2 separate regions of the Homo sapiens genome follow, and region 2 is linked to region 1. The links come from fine-mapping of genetic effects on gene expression. Tissue or cell type: whole blood. Region 1 holds a variant in brackets; the other region holds the start of a gene. All regions are shown on one strand. Distances are between the middles of the regions.

Region 1 (10,626 bases):
AGGGACATTGATGGAGTTGGAGGCCATTATCCTTAGCAAACTAACACAGGAACAGAAAGCCAAACCAAACACTGCATGTTCTCACTTATAAGTGGGAGCAGAATGATGAGAACACATGGACACATGGAGGGGGAACAACACACACCGGGGCCTGTCAGGGGAGGGGGTGGGGGAGAGAGAGCATCAGGAAAGATAGCTAATGGATTCTAGGCTTAATACCTAGGTGATGGGATGATCTGCGCAGCAAACCACGATGGCACACATTTACCTATGTAACAACCTGTATATCCTACACATGTACCCCTGAGTTTAAAATAAAAGTTGAAGAAGAAAAAAATAAAAAAGAAAACGTTGGTTGGAACGTTTATAAACATTTCATTTCATAATATGCAAATCTGAACCCTACAGCAGCGAGATTATCATAAACTCAAGTCTCCATTGAACACTAGGCATAGTGGTTTAGCCCACAGACTCTGGAGCCAGACTTCCTGGATTTGAACCCTGGCTTCCTCGCTTGTCAACTGTACGGCTTTGTGCTGGTTATTTCACCTCCCTGTGCCACAGCTCTCAGCTTTCCATGCCTATAATGACAATAATAACATTAGTACCTGCTTCACATTGTCTCTGTGAGACTTAATGAGTTAAAAATGTATAAAGTTCTTAAAATGGTAAATACTAACGAGGCTTTTGAGAAGAATAATATGCCACATAATAAGTCATTTCAAGTTTTCAGTAATAAAATAGTGCTTATATCCTTTGAACCACAGATTTATCCTGTTGCCTTTCCCCATCTAAGAACTGTCCTATTTTTCATGTGAAAAAGAAACAATGGAAATTTAGAAAGTAACAAAAAAAATATTCACTGGCAAGTTACACAATATTCAAATGTAGAAATGAGAGATTGTTCAGTTTGGAATATTTTATGGGAAAATATTAGATAGGAACTAAATATAACTTAGCCTAATCACACATGGTCTCCAGGCCTAGGGACACATTGACATTTTTTTTTTTTAAAGAAATTTCTTTATTTAAAACTGCATTTTTTTTTTCTGTGAAACTACACAAGTTTACAAGTGAGGAGAGAACTGCCCCCGGCCCATGCCTCCCACCCCCCAACCCATCACATTTCCAACCTGTCCCCAGTCCTGCCCGGATCTTTAATGGGAGGGGTTCCCCACTCTGACAGTCTTGTAAAATCCTGAGAATGTCTGAGGGGATCAGATGGTAGGGTTCAGGGCTGAGGATGGGACAGTGTTGATGTTACTTTTCCCCCACATCTGGCTTTTTGCAACCTCCTCCCTCTCCCTACCCCTTGATTTTGGTGTGACAAAAAGATACCTCATTTATGCGGAAATTGAGGAAGATACATATACAAGCACCCCAACCCATAATTAACATATTTGGCAATAACTCCCTTCCCATTCTTCCCCCTCCAATTTTCAAATAGAGTTTTTTAAAAAATTAAAGACATGTCACTCACAGGGGAAGATGGCATCTTCAATTTCCTCAAAATTACTGAGTCCAGCCCTGCCCAAGGGTTGTGGGAAGAAGGGGGATGAGAGGCCAGCAGGGCAAGCCCTTCACTGCCTCCACATCAAATGCGGCAGAAACCTGCCTGCATGAACAAAGAACACCTAATGGATTTTAGGGGGCAAAGCTTGGTGCCCTGTAAAATTTACTTCCTGATGGACAGGCCTGGAGCCAGGGGGGCCTCTTTACCAGTTCTGTTTGTCCCCCTTTCTCTTACCAGAACCCCTTTGGCTATCACCCCTAATATGGGAAAGTAAGAAATAAAAAAAAGACAAGAAATCAACATATTTATTTAAAAAAAAAAAACAAGCTACTTCCCCAAACTAAATTAAAAATTAAGAACCACCACCACCAACAACAACAACAACAAAAACAACAACAACAACAAAAACAGATGGATCCCAGGGTTTCTTTTTCTTTCTTTAAAAAAAAAAAAAAAAAAAAGTTCAACCCCAAAGCCCAGTCAATAATTCCCTAAAGTAGCAGAAACTCCCTCCGAGGTAGATATCTGAGTCAGACACTCTCGTCCACCAAGCGATTCTATTGGTTTAAGATGAGCTGCGTATGAGGTAAGTAAGCTGTCTGGAGGGGCAGGGGTGGGGATGCATGGGGGCGTGTCCCATGTCCTCTGTCCAGAAGTCATGTCCCCATTTTTGGCATCTCTGATTGGGCAGGGCTGGCGTCTCCAGATTCCAGAGCCTACAAGTGGGGTGGGGAAGGGAAAGTGGGGGAGCCCAGGAGAGAAACAGAATAGTTGCAAGTGGGAGTATGTGTGTGTGAGGTGTGGGAGAGGGAGAGAGAAAGACAGAGGAGAAAAAGGGGTCTGAGAAAATAGGTTTCTGGGTATGTGCATGTTTCTGTGTAAGAAAGAAAGCGAGAGAGGAAAAAGTTGGAAAAAAGGGAGAGACAGACCCCACACTCCCCTTAGGGGCCCCATTCTTCCTGCCATGTAATTAGCACCCCCAGCACAGACAGTCTCATTAGGGAGCGGATGACCCCATTGGCCCTTCTCTGTCTTGTGCTTCTCCTGTATTGGGGTTTGTCCTCTGGAAGCCTGCGTCCTCTTCAAGAGTCGCCTTGTGAGAGCCCCCACCCCTGTGACCCTGAGGGGCAAGATCAGTTGGAGGTATCAGAGTGAACACTCCCTGGTCCCTCCGTTGGGGATGTCACTGAAGAGGGGGTCACAGCCTCTTGCCAGCTGCCATTTGCCCTCATTTCCCGTGGGCTGTACATCTGGCCTCCCCCGAGGTTATCCCCATAGCCCCCTGGCCCCATCGAGCGTCGGAGTGATGCCACCTGGGAAGCAGAATAGGAATCTCCGTTGAGCCCAGGCATCCCCAGAAACATGTCTCCAGATCCTGAGATATTGAAAGAGCCGCCAGAGCCTGCAGAGGAAGGGGGTGTCGGGGAGCTGGTGCTGCTGTGGCCCCCCTGGGTGACTGACACGGCTGTCTTGACAGCATAGATGTTTGCCTCCTCTTGGAACTTTCCGATGTTTTTCTTATAGCGAATCTTCTTGTTGCCAAACCGGTTGGAGACCTGAGACACGGTGATGCCACACTTCTTGGCAAGCTCCTCCTTGGCCTCCTCACTAGGATATGGGTTACTCAGGTGGGAGTAGAAATACTCATTTAGGACCTCAGTGGCCTGTCTGCTGAAGTTACGGCGCTTTCGTCTGGCATCCAGGAAACGGGAGCGCAGCATCATCATAGCCTCGCAGGTGCTCTGCTTCAGCTGCATCTGGATGGCGCTGAACTTTCGATGGATGATGCTCACCATGCGTTCCATCTCTTTGGGGGCCACGGGCCTGGTGCGGCTCTGCTCCCTCAGCAGGTTCATGACATGGGTCGTGAACTCATTACATGCCTGCTCATACTTCTCCAGTTCCGAGTGGTATATGTGACGGATCTGGGCAAGTTTGCTGCGATAGTCCGAGTGTTCGATGGAGTTGTCAGGGGACACGCCACCACCAGAGGCTGCAGCGGCTGCAGCTGCTGCTGCTGAGCCGCCCCCTTTCTCGGGCCCAGCCACACCCTCTGCCAGAAGCATGTTGTCCAAGCGCATCAGCTGTGGGTCCACCGGCTCCTCCTCCTGGGAGCTCCGAATGCTGAGGCCGGTTTTCTCCTTGATTTCACACAGGACGCTAAAGAGAGCAGGCTTCATTCGGTGGCAGTTTAGGGCGTGTTTCTTGGCCTGGGCCTCGTCCAGGCTCTGGTCGGTGATGGTCATTATCTGCTGCAGAATGTCCCCGATGTCTTGCTTCCCTCGGCCTCCCGGGAACCCCCCGCTACCCCCACCGGGGTCTCCGCCACCAGGAGGCTCGCCAGGGCCCCCAGGCTCCCCACTCACCAATCCCAGGCCCCCCCCGGGCCCCGCCTGGAGGAGGCGGCCCCAGTAGCCGTTAGTCCATAGCTGGGGGGGGGCCCTGAGGCCCCCTCCCTGCTCAGCCCCTCCCCCCGCTTGGTTACTTCTCCCCACAAACTCGCTGGGGCCGCTGCTCCCTCCGCCCCAACCCCCGCCCGTCTGCCCCCGGCTCTCGGCTCCCCCGGGGGTTCACCCCGGCACTGAAGGGAGACCTGGGATACCGGCTGGGCCCCCCACAGGAGACCCCGGCCCCCGGCGGCGGAGAAAATGGAGCCGGAGAGAGAGAGGAGGCCCAAGCGGGAGTGTGTGTCCACATTGACATTTTGTGTTGGTGGGTATGCAGACAAGTGTGTATGAGTACTTTTGTATATCCTGGGCAATAAAATTTCAAGATTTTGCTATTTTAAATTGCTGAATTGAAAAAATAGCTATTTCTGGGTCATATACCATATTTGCTTGGATATCATGAACCCTTTGTTAGCAGACAGATTTTCAGTGTATGGCCAGATTTAAAGGACTCTTTTTGGGTATTGGTGAATTTACACTGAGGATTTCATGTTCCACTGCAGGCACCTTCTTCTCTGACCTCTCTCTGACTTAAAGCTTTGTCCCCAGTCTCTCGCTGGGTCTCTTCCTCTTACTAGCACAAATGCCAGACTCTGCCCTAAAACTTTCCTTCAAAACTCCACATATTCTTATGTCCTCATAGTCTCCCAAGCTAATTGCAAGTTTCCTCAAAAAAAATTTCTGTCCTTAAAGACATAATGTATGACTGAAAACCCTTCAGACCCCCTATTCTCGACGTAGGAAAGGCACTTTATATCATGTAAGTCCTAGTAAGGCTGAAGCTACAAAAGAAGCCTATAAACTTTCCAAATTCATTCTTGCTTGTCATCTCAAAAATGCACCTGAGGGTGTGGTTGGTTTGTGCCTCTCCCCAGGCCCATTCTTGCCCCTCTCTGTGCAGCCTTGGAGACTGCCTCCACTGGACCACATCAACCTGGCTCCACTGCCAGCTGGCTCTTGGTTGGGTTTGGCCAAGACCGACCCCTCAAGGTGAGGCAGGAGGAAAAAGAAGAGAAGATGTTGCCTTCCTGCTCCCACCCTGCCCTGCAGCATGTTTTCTGGTAGCGACTACATCTCTCCCTGACTTCAGCTCCCACCAGACTGGAGTAAAGCACTTTGCAATGTTCTTCATCCCTTCAGGCCTGGGGTGGTAATGACTGCCACTGTTGCTAGTCTCTGGGTGCCTCAGCAACCCTGCTCGTTCTCTTAATCCTGTCCACACCCCTTAAGGAGCCTCTTCTTTGCAGTCTCTTGAACTATGTGAATTGGATTGGTTTTTGCTAAGACCTTAACTGATAACAGAGCTCTGATAAAAATACAACAATTTTATGTAAATCCTAATTCTTCTCATTTTTAAACAAAAATAGGATATTTGCCTATACATATATAGTCTCAGAGGTTAAAAAAAGAAGCTTATGTTAAAATTTTTAATTTAGAATCCCACAAATTTAATCCACTTTAGCAAACTCCCTGGTCCCTCACCTTTGCTCCTCTCTCTGCCTGGAAATTCCCTAGATCTCCTCATGGCTGACTTTTTCTTGTCATTCAGACCTCAAAGTAATGGTTACCCATTTAGA[G/A]AAGGCTTTAAGTAGCCACCCACCTTCTCCCTCAGCATTTGAATTTAATCCTGTACACAACACCTTTTACTATTTGATATTCTTGCTATTTGTTTGTTTGTGTGCCCTGTCCCATGCTGGGACATGCGCCCTATGACAGCTGAGACTTTGTCCATCTTCTTCACTGCTCTGTCCTCAGCACTTGGCAACTACTTGGCAACATAGTAGGTGCTCAAAACCTATGTTGAGTGAATTAATGAATGAGTTGGCATTTTACAAGAGATAAATGAAATAAATTACTGTCCTTGTTCTCACAGAACTCACAAATGAAAGAAATTTATAGTAGAAGAAAGCATCATAATAGAAGAACACACAGACTCCCACATCTAGCCATGGCAAACTACTTTATGGCAGTGCAAACATCCCAGTGAACAAACCACAAAGGTGTGATAAAATGGAAAACAAACAAACAAAAACAAAAACAACCTGTTTTGAAGACATTGGAAACTCAAGGAAGCCAGGATTTTCAGGGCCAGGAGTCCAGAGTGAAGAGAAACTCACTGAGGTGAGCCCAAATCACTACTTTTCTCTTCAGAGCATTTTCTGATTCATATGCAGCATGTGTGGAAGGACTGAGAAGCCAAGTAGAAAGCAGCTGCTAAGAAGCAAAAAAAAAAAAAAAAAAAAAAGCAGAACAGAACTTTCACCACCTAACAGGGCTAGGAGTCCAGGGCCAGCAAGACAATCAGAACTTAAAGGGTCAAGATCCAGGAGAGAAAGGAAGCAGAAAGAAATGAGCCCAACCATGTGGGCAAACATTTTTCCCCTTGAGGCATTTACTGATTGATAAGAAGCACCTATAGAGAGGCATATAGTGGCTTCTGAGACTATAAGAAACTGGGCAGGACTATCAGCAGTGTTACAGTGCTGGAATAGTTTTTAAGTTTTCCCTGGAAAAAGAAAGTATCATTCATAATCTCTGCTATTTTATATATATATTTGGCATTCGATAAAATGTTAACAAACATATCAAGAGATATGACCAAGAAATTTTTTAAAAGATTATAGAAATAGACTCTCTAGAAATCCAAGGAGTTATATAAATACCTTAAAATCCTATGATTGATAAGCTGATAAAAATAGATAAGATTGAAAAAAAGTAACCAGAAAATTAGAATCTACAAAAAAGAAATCAAATGAAAAATCTAAACTGATATTACAAACTAAGAACTCAATAAATAGACTTAACAGAAGATTAGACACAGCTGGAAAAGGGACTAGCAATTTGGAAGATAAAACAATGGAAATTACTCAGAATGAAGCACAGAGAAAAAAGATAGAAAAAAATATAGGAGACCTATGGCACCTAGTAGAAAAATTTAACATATATGGAATTAGAGTCCAAAAGAGGAGGGAAAGACAGGAGGCAAAGCAATATGTGATAATGACCAAGAATTTTTCAAAGCTGACAAAAAAACGTCAAGCCACAGATTCAAGAAGCCCTTCAATCCCCATGAAGATAAACAGAAAGAAAAACGTGCCAACACACATCATGGAAATCTGCTGGAAACCAAATACAAAGAGAAAAAACTTAAAGATAAATACAAAATAATGTTTGCTTCAGAGAACTGGATAAAGATTCACAAAGAAGGCAACAATTCATTTATTCAACAAGAATTCACTGGGCACTTAATAAGCATCTATCACCAACTTGAGTCTTTAAAGAAACAAAGATATAAATTGCATTATCTCTGTTGTCTAGCAGTTCAAGTTTCATGTGTAAGAGAGATAGAAATGTAAACAAATTCTGCATAAAGCCTGCCAAAACGGATTTTTTTTTAACTGCAAAGGAAGAATGACGCTTGGAGCAGGCAGGTGTGAGGGGGCACAGAGAAGCTGCAGAATATTTGCATGTTGTCTTGCTAAAGTTTCTAGGCATTAAACAACCCAAGCAACAGCACAAAGGAATGAAATTGGACATCTCATCGAGCAATCGTGAGTTGTCTCTTGGGGTTCAGCATGGGGAGATGACAGGGAGTTGCAGAAAATGAGGCTGAAGAGTAAAGTTGGAAACAGATTCAGTAGGCAGTTGGGACTTACCACAAGTTTTTTCAGTAGGAAAGGGACATCACCAAGTCATTCTTTAGGAAGAGCACTCTGGGGCAACTTCAAGGGTACTCTTGAGAGGAAATCGATAGCAGCCCATGAGACCAACTAGACAGCTACTTGTCATGGTCCAGGCAAGCAAGAGAGAGTACGGCCTGAACTAGGGCAACAAAAATAGAAGTGACTACATGAGAGGGTATTCTCTAGACATTTCAAAGCCAGAATCAACAGGACTTAGCAGCCATTGCTTGTAGGAGACAGAAAAATAAGTCCAAGTTGACTTGGGTGTGTGGAGGATGTCACAATGATGTTAACACAAGGATAATATCATGAGGCTTGTTGCGTTAGAAACATCAATAGAACATTTCTGAAATGTCCATCAGGGAGCTGGAAAGTCCAGTTTAGAGCCCAGATGCAAAATTAGGAGCTGATACCAAGCTGTGAGGGCAAAGGAGAGAATGAGGCAGCCTGTGGCCTGGCAGAGCAAGAACTGAATAAAGACCAGTGACCCTGAAGTTAACACATCTCAGGAAATACAGATTATCCCAACAAAATAGTCTTAGGTTACTCATTCTGAGACTTGTGAAAATATTTTAATTAAAAAGAAATCATTAGGATGCGCATTACACAGGAAAACTGTTTGAGAAACAGATCTATTACCCTTTGTATTTTATGTTGTCCTGAAGCCTTTTGCTAAGCTGCATCCCAATTTTTTCTGCTTATACAGCAGAAACACTAATGATATGAGCTGTAGTTAAAAAGCACTTTCCAAGTCTGCTACTTGAAAACTTCAGTATGAATAATGTCAGAGGCATGGGGGAGGTGGTTAAAGGCTATGTCTCTGCTGTGTTTTTAAAATAATGCACATCAAATAAAGAAGAAACACCACTTAAAACTGAGATTAAATTTCCATTACATTAACCAATTACTTTGATTTAAGTATCTATGTATATATACACATATACATACACTGTCTGTATGTGCCAAGTGGGAAATTTTTTCTCTGTTATCAGTCAATTCCTCTCATTTCACTTATGATATATGGATAAGAACCTAACTTTGTCAGAGATTAGGAGCATTTTTGCAGCCCCACATTACTGCAGAATACTAAAGTTCAGGTCAAGAATAACAGACTTCCTTCTGCTGCAGAAATTTTCTCACAGAGCTACACCGGATGCAATTTGAACTTTTGTGTTTCTTAACTACTTGTGGTTTATTTCTTTAAGTCAGTTGATCTTGCTTCAAGTCCCTGAGGCCACTAGAGAGAGGCAGCTTGTTAAGATTTGTGCATCTGATCTTTGAAGATGACTCCCCAGATTCCTTTCCTACACCCCTAAAAACCAGCACCCAATAGTATCTACTCTATCGTGGGCCTAATTAGAGAGCAAAACAATTAACAGTTACTGAGTTCCTCCTCTGTGTTCAGCACTGCTTCATGTAACAAGAAGCAAAGAAGCCGTGGAAGAGATTTAAGTAAATGGAAGACAGAAGTTATATTTTTAAAGAAACTAACCAAAAATAGCAAGACACTATCATTGAGGGCTAAACTGAGCAGCATCCAGTATTAAATGCTGTAGGATCTTCTACAAAGGAGAGACTTGAGTGGACTGTGTGAATCTGGAAGGCTCTGTGAAGGAGGGAGAATTTAACCCTGGAAACACTAGTGGGTCTCTTTTACCCCTTTGCTCTGGGTGTAGCATTTATGTTACATTTTGGCACCCAGCCAAGGAAGAACGTTATACCACAGACCTGGTATTAGACACAGTTGAATTCTTTGAAAATTCAAGCCTTCTTCATCACACTTTGTAGTAAGAGGTCAAAGCTACAGTTTCTCTCACTGCCAAGCCCTCATCTGTGCTGCCTGTTCCAATATTACACACACACACACATACACACACACATACACAGCTGCCTGAACTTGTATAGAGGTAAAGCAGGGAGAAGGATTCTCTTTCCCCAAAGTCTGTAGCCTTATGTGAAGAGGGATAGTGCAGCTGATTCCAGGCCAATCTCAGGCCACATGGCGGCATCATGGAAGCTGGTCTGCAGAGCCCCTAGTTCCTCACCTCTGCCAACAGCCTCCTTTCATCCTCATTTACCTCCCTCTGGAATGTTTTCTCAGTAAGTTCAGATATCATGGGTTGTCACTCACCACGTTTATTAAGCACCTACAAAGCACAAAGTACTCTGCATGGAGTAGAATCTGTGAACCCAATGAACAAGGGAAGGAACTGCCAAGAAGTATACAATCTATAGGGGGACCTGACCGAAAATTCTAAGGCTGGCAGTATGCTAGAATTGTACACAGACAAAGCTATAGGATGGTGTAAAGCTTAAACCTACAGGCATCAGAATTTTTTTAAAAAGCCTTGTGGTTTATGAAGGTCTGCGGGGCAGGAAGAAGGAGGCAAGCGTTCATCAGCCAGTTCCTGAACACACGAGACTTGTGAGGGAGGACCTCGTGGGTCAGCAGCAGGGAGGCCCTCACAACTCTCAGGGAAGATCTCATGAGATTCAATATGAGAGGGAAAGGTGAACGTTAGACCTAAAAATAAAAAATAGGTGAAGGGGTTGTTGATAACATATATTTGAAAGAAGTCCCAGAGTTTGTCCAGTAAAACCTTCCTGAGCTGTCGTATTGCTAAATTCCACCTCTCTTTTTCCAACTCCTGATATGTAATGTCATCTTATCAAGACAGGGGCTGGTTTCTGCATTAAGGATATTAAGGGAGGAAAAAAATCAGTTGGGAGGCTCAAGGAAGATAGCCTCAGAAGATGGTAGGAGATGGCCTCAGAACCCAGCCCAGTGAGTAGACTCTTCTAAGGTGGCACTGGGGAGAAAGGCATGATGGTAATAGATGGGGAGAGTGAGCTGCATGTTCCAGAGAGCACATGGACTCCAGAAGAGCTGGATACATTGACGTCTGGGGCAGCATGGAGAAATTAGGAGGAGACCAGTGAGAAGACAGTGGGGCCAGTTCCCAGAAGGCCCTGCCTGCCAGGC
Region 2 (10,626 bases), 56 kb after region 1:
AAAATACCAAATTTCAAAATCCTACACACTAGTTCATTTTCATTTCCTCTTTACCACAATTCATTATCATATCTAAAAGAAGCTCTTGGCTGAAGCCTTATACTGTCTGCAGCATGTTACTTTCTTTGCAAATTTACTTTTAGGAAACATGATAAAGAAAAGCAACATATTCCACAGGCATCCCAAGTAAAGCATTATAAATTCATATTCTCTCTTGCACTGATTTAAATGGGAAGCAAGTAAGAAAAGGGAAAACCCTTACGGTTCTCAGATGAAACTTCGCTGCTTTCATCCACCTCCACATACCGTGTCAGGGTCAGAAAAACACTCCAAATAGATACTTCTGTCACTTTGCTAAACCAACGAAGCTGCTACCATCGCCAGCAGTATGTTCACGCTACTTTCCTGAGGTCTGTGTTCTAATCATCAGAACTTTTAAAAATTACATACTTTTTTTAAAAATCCTTTTTCTGAACCAGCCTCAGCACCAAAACATTGGTCTCTGCTTCAAGGTTCCCCATTTTAACTGAAGAGGAATGAAAAACCAAATGCCTTCAAGTCCTGAAGGAGTTGCTTCTTCCTGTGTTCAAAGTTGAAGAGAGTAGTGTGCTTTTTCTTCCACTGCCCTGTTTGGTTTCTGCCTTTAGAATACAAAGATGTGTTTCACTCCTGGACACCTAACAGGCTGAGATTTACATGTGAGAAAACATCCCCCAGGTTATTACCAAGGAGGCAAAAATTGCTCCCACCCAGTTTAGCTGCCTTTCAGGAAAGAGACTGGAAAAATGGAAACGAGGGAGGGGAAGGAGATTCTATCTGAAGCTGAGGACAAGTAACACAGGTGAATCCAAAGTAATGGAGGCAAATATTAAAAAGAATATTATTTATTATCTTCTTTATTAATACTCACATGTAACCTTTGCTTTTTACACAAAAGTCTGCTTTAGAAGAATGCCTCCTCGGCTTATCATGCCCAATGGGGCTTTTTGTTTCTGGACCACTTCCCCTTTCTCCACCCCCACCCCCACATCCAAATTACTCTTAACATGTTCACAGATACCACGAATATTTTGTAAACAAGATTTGGGTTACTGGAACTTGATTTCATTAACATCCCACTTCAAAATGGAAGGCAGGTGGAGGACAGGGTAAGAAATAGGAGAAAGAGGACAAGAGAAGGCAAAGAAGAAGAGGGGCACCTGGTCAGAACGTTCAAGTCTTGCCTTTTCTTAGGGGTGTGTATTTTGTGGCTGTTCCTTGAAATGCACTGACTCAAAACATTGACAGCAAGTGTGTGTGTGATTATTTATATATCTATAATAGAATATGTGGGCTTCCTCCGTTTGAGTCTGGACTGTGTTTATTTAAACACACTACGATCCTCTTTATAGGTATCACCACAGGGAATCAGGTCTCCTGGGAACCCCTTTTAGAGACGGGGCTTCCGAAGCAGGGTCTTGCTGAGGTCTTTGACCTCCTCAGGGCTGTTGACCCGCTCATAGCCCAGGACGGCCATGGGCTGGTAGCAAAACTCCTCCACCTGTTTGATCTGCTGGAAGGTGAGGGCGGTCCGCCAGGCATTGGCGGCCTGCGTGGCATTGCGTGCAGATACCACGAAAGGCTTGGAGGAGGAGCCCGAGCCACTGGTCATGTTCAGGGCAAACTGCTCCATTTCGGGGCTCACCAACAGTCCCACAAAATCGTACACTCTCCGTAGTGTCTTGACGGGGTCTCCCACCAGGTCCTCGTACCGCACCACCAGGTAGTGGCCCTGCAGCCAGTCAGGGGGCTGCAGGGCTGTCTGCAGCGTCTTAGCCATACTATTGCAGATGACCTCCATAGCGCCCAGAGCGTGGTAGTCTGCGGGGCCGCCCACGCCCTCCTTCTTGGCGCCAAGCTTGTGGCCCGCGGCCTCCAAGAAGGGCATGCGGTGAGCTCGCGGGTCTCGGCTGCGCACCACCTGTAGGCTCTCACGGATGAGGCCGTGGCGCGAGCGGATCCGTGAACTCGCCACCGCGCGGGGATCACGCACCAAGTGGATGACCTTGAGGTCCAGGGCCGGGTCTCGCAGCAGTGGCGCCAAGACCGCCACGTCGAAGACGCGCACACCCTTTATGACTAGTGTGCGGTACTTGCGGCACTCCTCCTCGAAACGCGCCAGGCGCTGTGGCGGGCACTTCTTGCACACGCGGTCGTCCACCAACCCCACGACCTCCTTGCGGTAGGCGGGGCAGAGTGGTGACGAGCACACCACCTTGTTGGTGGCTGCGCCGAAGATGCCCAGCGTGGTGAGGTTGCGCCCCCCGCTGCCCGCGGGGCTATACAACTGGAAGACAGAGAGGTCGCAGCGGTAAAGAGCGCTCAGCATGTCCCGCGCTGCCCCCTGCAGGGAAACGGCGTCCCCCGGATACAGTTTTTGCCATACATGCCACACTGGCTCGTAGAGAAAGAACACCTCGGGATTCTGGTTGAATAGCTCGCCGAAGAACGACGAGCCAGAGCGCCACGTGGTGAACACGTACACCAGCTGCCGCTTGTCCCCGACGCCCCCGGTGCCCCGAGTGCCATTGCCTGGAGGGGCCGCAACCCCCGCCATCCCTGCCGCGGCTGCAGGAGCCGCCCCGACGGCGGCAGCGGGAGGGCGGTAAGGAGTGCGGAGGTCCAAACGGGCATGAGCACGGGGCGGCCCGGCCGGAGGCGGCCCTGGGCGCCCCCAGCTGCCTCCGGCTGCCCCCGCTGCGGCACCCAGCGGCCCATCGGGGTTGCACTGCTGCAGCGGCTCCTTGTGCCACTTGTAGTCCAGGAGGTTGAGCATAGTGAGCACCAGCAGCAGTGCATAGCCCGCGCACAACACCAGCGCCTTCCTACGGAACACCTTCATTCCGAGAGGGGACGCGGGCCAGCGGCGTCCTGGGCGCCGGGGCCACTGCGGGAGCAGGGCACGCGGCGCGGCTGCAGGCGCAGCCTGGAGCAGCCGAGGGAGCGCGCCCGGGGGCAGAGCTCGCTGCGGGCTGCGGCTCATCACAGGCACAATCCGGGCCGGCGGCGCGGCGGAGGCAGCCCTGCAGCCCGGGAAGGGGACGCAGCGGGCTGGCTGCTGGCGCCGGGACTCGGGCCGCGACTCCGAGGCGGGCGCGGCGGCTGGTCCCCAGCGCCCAAGGCTGGCTCTCCCATGGCAGCGGCTCCGGGTAGGACCTGCGAGGGGAAGCGGAGTGAGCGGATGCGCCCCAATCTCCCTCCCAGCCTCCTCCTCCTAAGTAACGCCCACCCTCGGTTCTGCCCGGTTCCTCCGCTCACCTGGAGCCGAGGGCGCGCCCGGGAGCGGCCCCGGATCACCGCCCGGCGGACTGTCCGGCTGTCACTCGTTCCTCGATTTCGCTCCCTCTCGCTTCCGCTGGGGGTCCCCGCACCTTCGAGGGGTCTGGGGAGTCGGCCGACTTATCCCTGGGCAGTTTCCGGGCAGCGGGCGCCCTGCGGCTCGGGAAGAAAAACTTTCACGCGGCCCAGAGCCCCGCTCCGCGCTCCGCCGAACCCGGCGCCTCCCGGCTCCAGCGACGTCTCCTCCGCTTTCTCGGGACCGCAGCTTCCTGTCTCGCTCAGGGGAACGAAGCCGGCTGGGGGCGATGGCTGGGGGCGGCTTATATGGGACTCAGCTCCCGGCATAGCGGCGCAGCCCCTCTCGCTTTCGGCCTCCGTGCGGCGAATTTTCCCACCTCTCTGGCAGCGGTGGATGGGGCACAGCGCGACCCCGCAGCGGCGGCGGCGGCTGCTTCCATCACCGGGAGGATGCCCGGGCGGACAGCGCAGGCAACCCCCGCCGCTCCGCAGCCTCCGACTGGACCAAAGGACCCCGAACACACAGCTCTAGGCAAGGAAACCCAGGTGTGCAGCACTGCCCGACCCGACCCAACCCGCCCCCGGTACCAGCGCTTCTGGCCAACGAGGTATTTAAGCAAAGAAAGACCCCGCCGCAGCCGCCGCCGCCGCGCGAAAGCGGCGCCCAGGAGGATGCTGCTACCCGACTCCCCTTACGCCGGGCGCCCGCAACGCGCTCGGACCAGCCTCTGCGCGGCTCCTGCCAGCCGGCGCCCGGTTGGTGCGCGCCGCCGTCTGTCGCCGCGGCTCCTCCCCTCCGCCGCGCAGCCCTCCCCCTTCGCCGGCCCCGCCCCCGCCCCCAACGCCGAGCCGGCTCCCACCGTCGCTGCGCCTCGGGGGCTGGAGACGCGACCCGCTTTACCGCGACGCGCGGGGGCTGCAGTCCACGGGTCCGAAGGCTTAGCTCTGCGCGCAAAGCGCCGGGATGCGAACGCGGGATCTGGAGCTCGTCGGTGCCGAGAGCTGCCAGAGAGTTGGATTCTGCGTGCAGCTGCCGGACTCGGCCCCATGTTTTTGCTCTCAGAAAGAGTTGGTGATGAAGTTTGGGCAGAAATCCCCTGTCGGCCGTCCGCTCCACGCTTCCCTCGGGGCCGACACTGCCAACCTCTCCGGGCACTGAGGACACCTCTGCGCCCTGGAGCGGTGGGAGGACGCGGAGCGCCGTTCTCTGGCTTCCGACACCCTGCCCGCCCTCTCTAGTGGGTCTGTGGCTGCGCCCTCTCGAAGGAAGTAATAAATCTTTCTGACCTTGGGGGTCAGAGGAGACGCTTCAGTTTTCCGGAGGGGTGTGCGGGCGGGACCGTCTTTCCGCTTTACTGGACCTCTGGCCGGGGCTGCTCTTGTTTCATTGTGCCCCACATGCGGAGCCCCGATGCTCTCCGCATTTCCGCTCGCGGTGCTGCGTCCACTGTGATTGACGTCCTCTGGAATTGGGGTGATGGGGGAGGGGAACGCCCCGTTCTAATTTGCAGAAAAATACTTGTCCCGCTTCTTGGTTTTGTAGATGAGATCAAAGAACTTGACCCCAAAGGAAACACCGTTGTTGAAAGAAAATCATTTTTCAGTTGCTTTAGGTTTAAGTACTTTTGTTTAAGGTTATGAGGAAAAGCGTCTCTCTCTCCCCCCAACTCCCTCCCTCCCCAAGAACACTAAGCTGTAGCCTCAACTTCATCTGTAGAATGGGGACAGTTGTAACAGCCTCCGGAGACTGAACGGTGGTTGAGTATCAGAGCGCGCACACGAAAGGTTAGACCTGAGTTCAGGCCTCCAAGTGCCGAAAAGGGAATCTCCGTGGGGCCTGAGGCTCAGCACCCTCGGATAAACAGAGCTCTCGCTGATCCGGAGTTTTGTTGCCTCCTGTCCCAGTAGAGTTTTTAGAAGTTACTGCACAATTATCTTTGTAGCGTTTCGGGCAGACTTTTCAGAGGACCGTTCTAACATTAAAATATTGCTGTTTGCGCCATTATTCTTCCATGAGTCTTACAGAATCCCCTGAGTACAAAGACTTGAAAAGTGACTTAACTCGCTTTCCACGGGTTTTTAACTCTCTTACGGATTTAGTTTCAGGGGAGAAAAATGTTCAAAAAACTTATTTATCCTTGTTTTCCAGAAAAACCCATAATGTCACGAGTACAGTTCAGCTTATTTTTTCTCCTGGGGAGGGGGATTGGGACAAGGACAGCAGAGCTCAAATTTTATATCCAGCTTTCTCAAATAATATGGCATTGCCTCTGGAAGTGGGTCGAGACAGGCAAGAATCCCTGTTAACAGATGAAGGTGGTAGAGTTTAATTGAGCGACTCCCCATCTTTTCCTTTTCTGGAATCCCCAGCCTCCCTTCGCCTACTCTCTCAAATGCCCCTGCCCCTTTTTCACCACCTCTTTTACCACGAAAACTAAAATGACATTGGTGCATGAAAAGACTGATGGGAGAGAGAGGGAATTGGGGAGGAAAGTAAATCTCAATTTTAATATTCAACATGATTCCAAGAAAAATAATTTCTAATATTTTTCATTTAGTTTCTGGCTTTGTGCTTACCCAGAAAAAAACTGAATTGCATTAGTCGATGTAGGGACCCTTTTTAAAAACAATTGTTTGCATAGAAATAATTCCGTTTGCAATTTTGTAACACTTTACTGGTGTTGGCAAAATAGTAAATCCATTTGCCAGGTGCCCCCACAGTGCTCAGCTGGCATAAATTTACGGGTTCTGGCATCTCCACCCTCTCCTTGCTTGCAAATTTTTCCCATTTTGCATGGTGTCATGATTAATTCTGAACTTTGTTATAGCTAATGACATCTGAAAACTTCATAATGCCTTCCTTCCCGCATTTGTTTGGAAATTCCTTTCATTTTAATCTACTTATTTTAGCATAGTAATGACCCAGACATATAATATGTCACATAATAATGTCACTTGCACAAGAGCCAGTCATGCCACAGGGCTAGCCTTAATTTCGGCTCACTGGTTTAGTTTGTCACAATTCCATCTCCCCCAGGATGCTCTTTCAGTCTCTGTCTTCTCTGCTGCCTGTTATGTTCTATTGGAAACTGTCAGGCCTCTGAGCCAAAGCTAAGCCATCATATCCCCTGTGACCTGCATGTACACATCCAGATGGCTGGTCCTTGCCTTAACTGATGACATTCCACTACAAAAGAAGTGAAAATGGCAGGTCCTGCCTTAACTGATGACATTACCTTGTGAAATTCCTTCTCCTGGCTCATCCTGGCTCAAAAAGCTCCCCCACTGAGCACCTTGTGATCCCCCCCTCCACACCTGCCCACCAGAGAACAACCCCCTTTGACTGTAATTTTCCTTTACCTGCCCAAATCCTATAAAACGGCCCCACGCCTATCTCCCTTCACTGACTCTCTTTTCGGACTCAGCCCGCCTGCACCCAGGTGATTAAAAAGCTTTATTGCTCACACAAAGCCTGTTTGGTGGTCTCTTCACACTGATGCGAGTGAAAGAAACTTGCTGTGGCTTTTGCTTAATCCTGGACAAATGTCCAGAGATCTTCAAGGACTTTCTTCCAGAGTCTGAACTGGGGAAAGATGCAAGGCTGGGTTACCTGAACAGTTCCCATTTGGGCCTATCTGTGTGAATCCTAGAAGATTCACCTTTGGAAAATGTTTGCCCCTGGGCACCAAGATAGATTCACTCCCTCATATTTTGAACAAATATGCATTTTCAATAGAACTTGAGATTATAGATTCAGGTTACTCATAATCCTTGATTTAAGATATGCTGCCATTGTTAGTCCAAGTGGCCCTTTTAAATGTCCTATGTTTTAATATAATGAATATGCATGAACCCATTACACAGCCCAAAAACCTCCAAGAGTAACCGCTCTACTTAGTTTAGAAACTGAGATGAAATGATAAAGTTCTAACAGGAAGGAAAAACAACTTGCTTTAACAATCTCAAAAAGATACAAGACTACTTATGGCCGGGCACGGTGGCTCATGCCTGTAATCCCAACACTTTGGGAGGCTGAGGTGGGCATATCACTTGAGCCTAGGAGCTTGAGACCAACCTGGGCAACATGGCAAAACCCCATCTCTACAAAAACTACAAAAAAATTAGCCAAGTGTGGCAGTGCATGCCTGTAGTCCCAGCAACTCGGGAGACTGAGATGGGAGAATTACCTGACCCCAGGAGGTCAAGGCTGCAGTGAGCCATAATGGTGCCACTGCACTCCAACCTGGGCAACAGAGTGAGACCCAGTCTCAAAAAAAAAAAAAAGAAAAAGAGGTTGGGCACGGTGGCTCACACCTGTAATCCCAGCACTTTGGGAGGCCGAGTTGGGCAGATCACCCGAGGTCAGGAGTTTGAGACCAGGCTGAAACCCCGTCTCTGCTAAAAATACAAAAATTAGCCTGGTTTGGTGGTGCGCACCTGTAGTCCCAGCTACTCGGGAGGCTGAGGCAGGAGAATTGCTTGAACCCGGGAGGCAGAGGTTGCAGTGAGCCAAGATCGCGCCACTGCACTCCAGCCTGGGCAACAGAATGAGACTCTGTCTCAAAAAAAAAGAAAAGGAAGGAAAAGAAAGAAAAAGAAGAAAAACAGTACTTACAAATTGAAACAACACTATTACCAGAGGGATTTAAAGGAGGGTTCCACCAAACTTTCAAGAACTAGATTGTTTCAGTCTTATCTCTATCAGAGAAGAGAACAAGAGGGAATATTTCCCCCAACTCATTCAAAGGGGATAATAACTACAGAGGGATTTCAGAGAAGAAATTTGGTACTGTCTCTGATTAATTTATACATAAAACTCTTAAATAAAATATAAGCAAAACAAATCCACTCAAGTGGGGAAAAAAGGACAATAAACTAGAACCAATTTGGGTTTATCCCAGAAATATAAGGATGACAATAAATATTTAGTAAGCACCTATAATGTACCAGGTGCTGGTCTAGCTATGTGAGATGCAAAAGTGAAGCAGACAGGCCTAGACCCTACCTTCATGAAGTTTACACTCTAGAGTGGGAGATACTCAGTGCACACACATTTAAACAAATAAGATTATTTTTGAGAATGGTAAGTACTATAGAAGAAATAAAATATTAATGTGATGGAGAGTGACTGGAAACAGCTATTTTTAAATTGGGAAAGTAAGGTTTGCAAAGGGGAGGTGACCCTTGCAAAGAATGAGGATGCAGCCAGATGAAAACTGAGGGATGAGAGTTGCATGCAGACGATACTGCAAGTGCAGAAGCCCTGAGTGGGGATGAGGTCTAGCCCAGTGAATGCGATTATGCTGTCTACCTGATTGGGGTGTGCCTGGTTTACAAAACCTGAAGGGGTTTCCTTAACATAGACTTTAAAAATCAATTTGTTAAGAAGCACAGATTGGGCACAGTGGCCCACTCCTATAATCCCAGCACTTCGGGAGACCAAGGTAGGAGGATCAATTGAGCCCAGGAGTTTGAGACCAGCCTGGGCAACATAGAGAGACCCGCCCCCCAAAACCCTCCCACTACCCCTTACCCCCATATCTACAAAAAATATTAAAAATTAGCTGGGCATAGTGGCACAGGCTTGTAGTCCTAGGTACTCGAAGGCTGAGGTGGGAGGCTCACTTCATTCAGCCCATGAGTTCAAGGCTGAAGTGAGCCATGTAGGTGCCAGTGCATTCCAGCCTGAGTGATACAGCAAGACCCTGTCTCAGAAAAAAGGAGGAGGTGGTGGCAGGGGGCAGGAAGGGGAAATAAGAAAAAGAAGAAGCACAAAATGGATGTTATGGGAGAAGCGCACACAGGTTTGCTTCTCTAAGAACATATGTAGCTAATTTCTAAATGTGTCACTCTGGTGTTGTCTTTGAGCACCCCTCTCTCTTCCCCAGACTCCACTTGGAGTTCCTCAGCCTTTCTGCATCTTCACCTTTGAGACCTAGCCCAGCTGTCTACTTCCCGGGTCTCACCCCAGCCTGGAAGATTGGTAACAAAGCCTGTGGCTTCTTCTTGCAGTTTTTTCCTTCCAGATATTAGAGGACAGGAGCTAGCTAGCTGGACCAGGAGATGCTCCGCCACCACACCTATAACCACTGACTTCTCTAGTCTGCCAGCCATTGCTCTGTTCCCTGTGGTAGGCATCCTATTGGGTTCTGCCTGACCCACATCCATTCTTTTCTGTGGTAACAGTATCTGAACCAATGCACCCCATTGTACGTGGATTTGGTGGGACCTTCAGCCAAAGTACTCCTCCCCTCCTCCCAAGGGGCAGGTACATGACCCAAGCTCAACCAATTAGATGTTCTCTCCATGAAAGTTGCATTCATTCATTCACTCAGTCACTCATTCGGTCATCCTATATGTATTGAGTTCCCACCATGTGCCAAGCAATCTGAATCTTTAGCAGAGAGATTCATAAGAAGGAAAATGGTTGCTGCCCTCTCGGGCCAACAGCAGAGCCCTAAAGCAATGGCTCATTATCTCTCAGAAGGGACCCTACCCTTTTTAAGACTATTGTTTGTTCTTTGTTTAAAGTCTGTGAGCTACCCCAAATGCTTCCCCAAATCCCTTTCGCCTCCTGCTTATGTTACTCACCGTCCATTTCTGTTATTTACAATCAAAAATTTCTGGCTGGGTGCAGTGGCTCATGCCTGTAATCTCAGCACTTTGGGAGGCCAAGGCAGGTGGATCACTTGAGGTCAGGAGTTCAAGACCAGCCTGGCCAACACAGTGAAACCCCTTCTCTGCTAAAAATACAAAAAATTAGCCAGACGTGGTGGCATGCACCTGTAATCCCAGTTACTTGGGAGGCTGAGGCAGGAGAATCGCTTGAACCCAGGAGGCAGAAGTTGCAGTGAGCCGAGATTGTGCCACTGTATACCAGCCTGGGTGACAGAGCAAGACTCCATCTCAAAACAAACAAACAAAAAAAAAAACTCTAATTGACAGGCTGGCTTACTGCCTAATTACAGATTTGGTTTCATTCATGCTTTTGTCCCTGTGCCTTGTTCTCCATCTGTCCTTACAATGGGGCTTTCTCTTTGAATCCCCACTTTTAAATTCTGGTTTCTAGAGAGCCAGTCATCCTAAGGAACTCCGTCTCTGCCGCACATCAACATCAGTGGCCTCATCATTCACATCTTTCCTTGGGCTTGATTGTCACCATCACTGGCTGGGCTGCTCCCTTGTGACCCCTGACAGCCAGGATTGCCTTTACAATAACGAGTGTACTCTTCTCATTGGATTTACTTCCAAAAACACATCTAATTATCATTATAATTATCTCTTGATTTC

Evidence for each region. PIP is the estimated chance that this variant, and not a neighbour inherited with it, causes the effect.
Region 2: it holds the start of CHST2, and the variant in region 1 is fine-mapped to the expression of CHST2 in whole blood (TOPMed, PIP 0.94).

Annotation. Positions count from the first base shown.
Region 1 is chr3:143,169,640-143,180,265 of GRCh38, reverse strand. It overlaps the pseudogene PBX2P1. Among named protein-coding and RNA genes, the nearest start is that of CHST2, 55 kb to the right of the region's middle. RefSeq lists an enhancer at 8,950-9,089. The variant G/A (reference allele first, on the strand shown) is at 5,538.
Region 2 is chr3:143,113,213-143,123,838 of GRCh38, reverse strand. It overlaps CHST2 (carbohydrate sulfotransferase 2), which reads right to left and starts at 4,068. Exons shown (of 2, transcript NM_004267.5): 1 at 3,298-4,068; 2 at 1-3,195. The coding sequence starts at 3,022. The coding sequence ends at 1,430. RefSeq lists enhancers at 1,427-2,068, 2,711-3,352, 3,676-3,725, 4,011-4,510, 4,706-4,835 and 2 more and silencers at 2,526-2,885, 2,946-3,145, 3,206-3,285, 3,336-3,385, 3,416-3,465 and 1 more.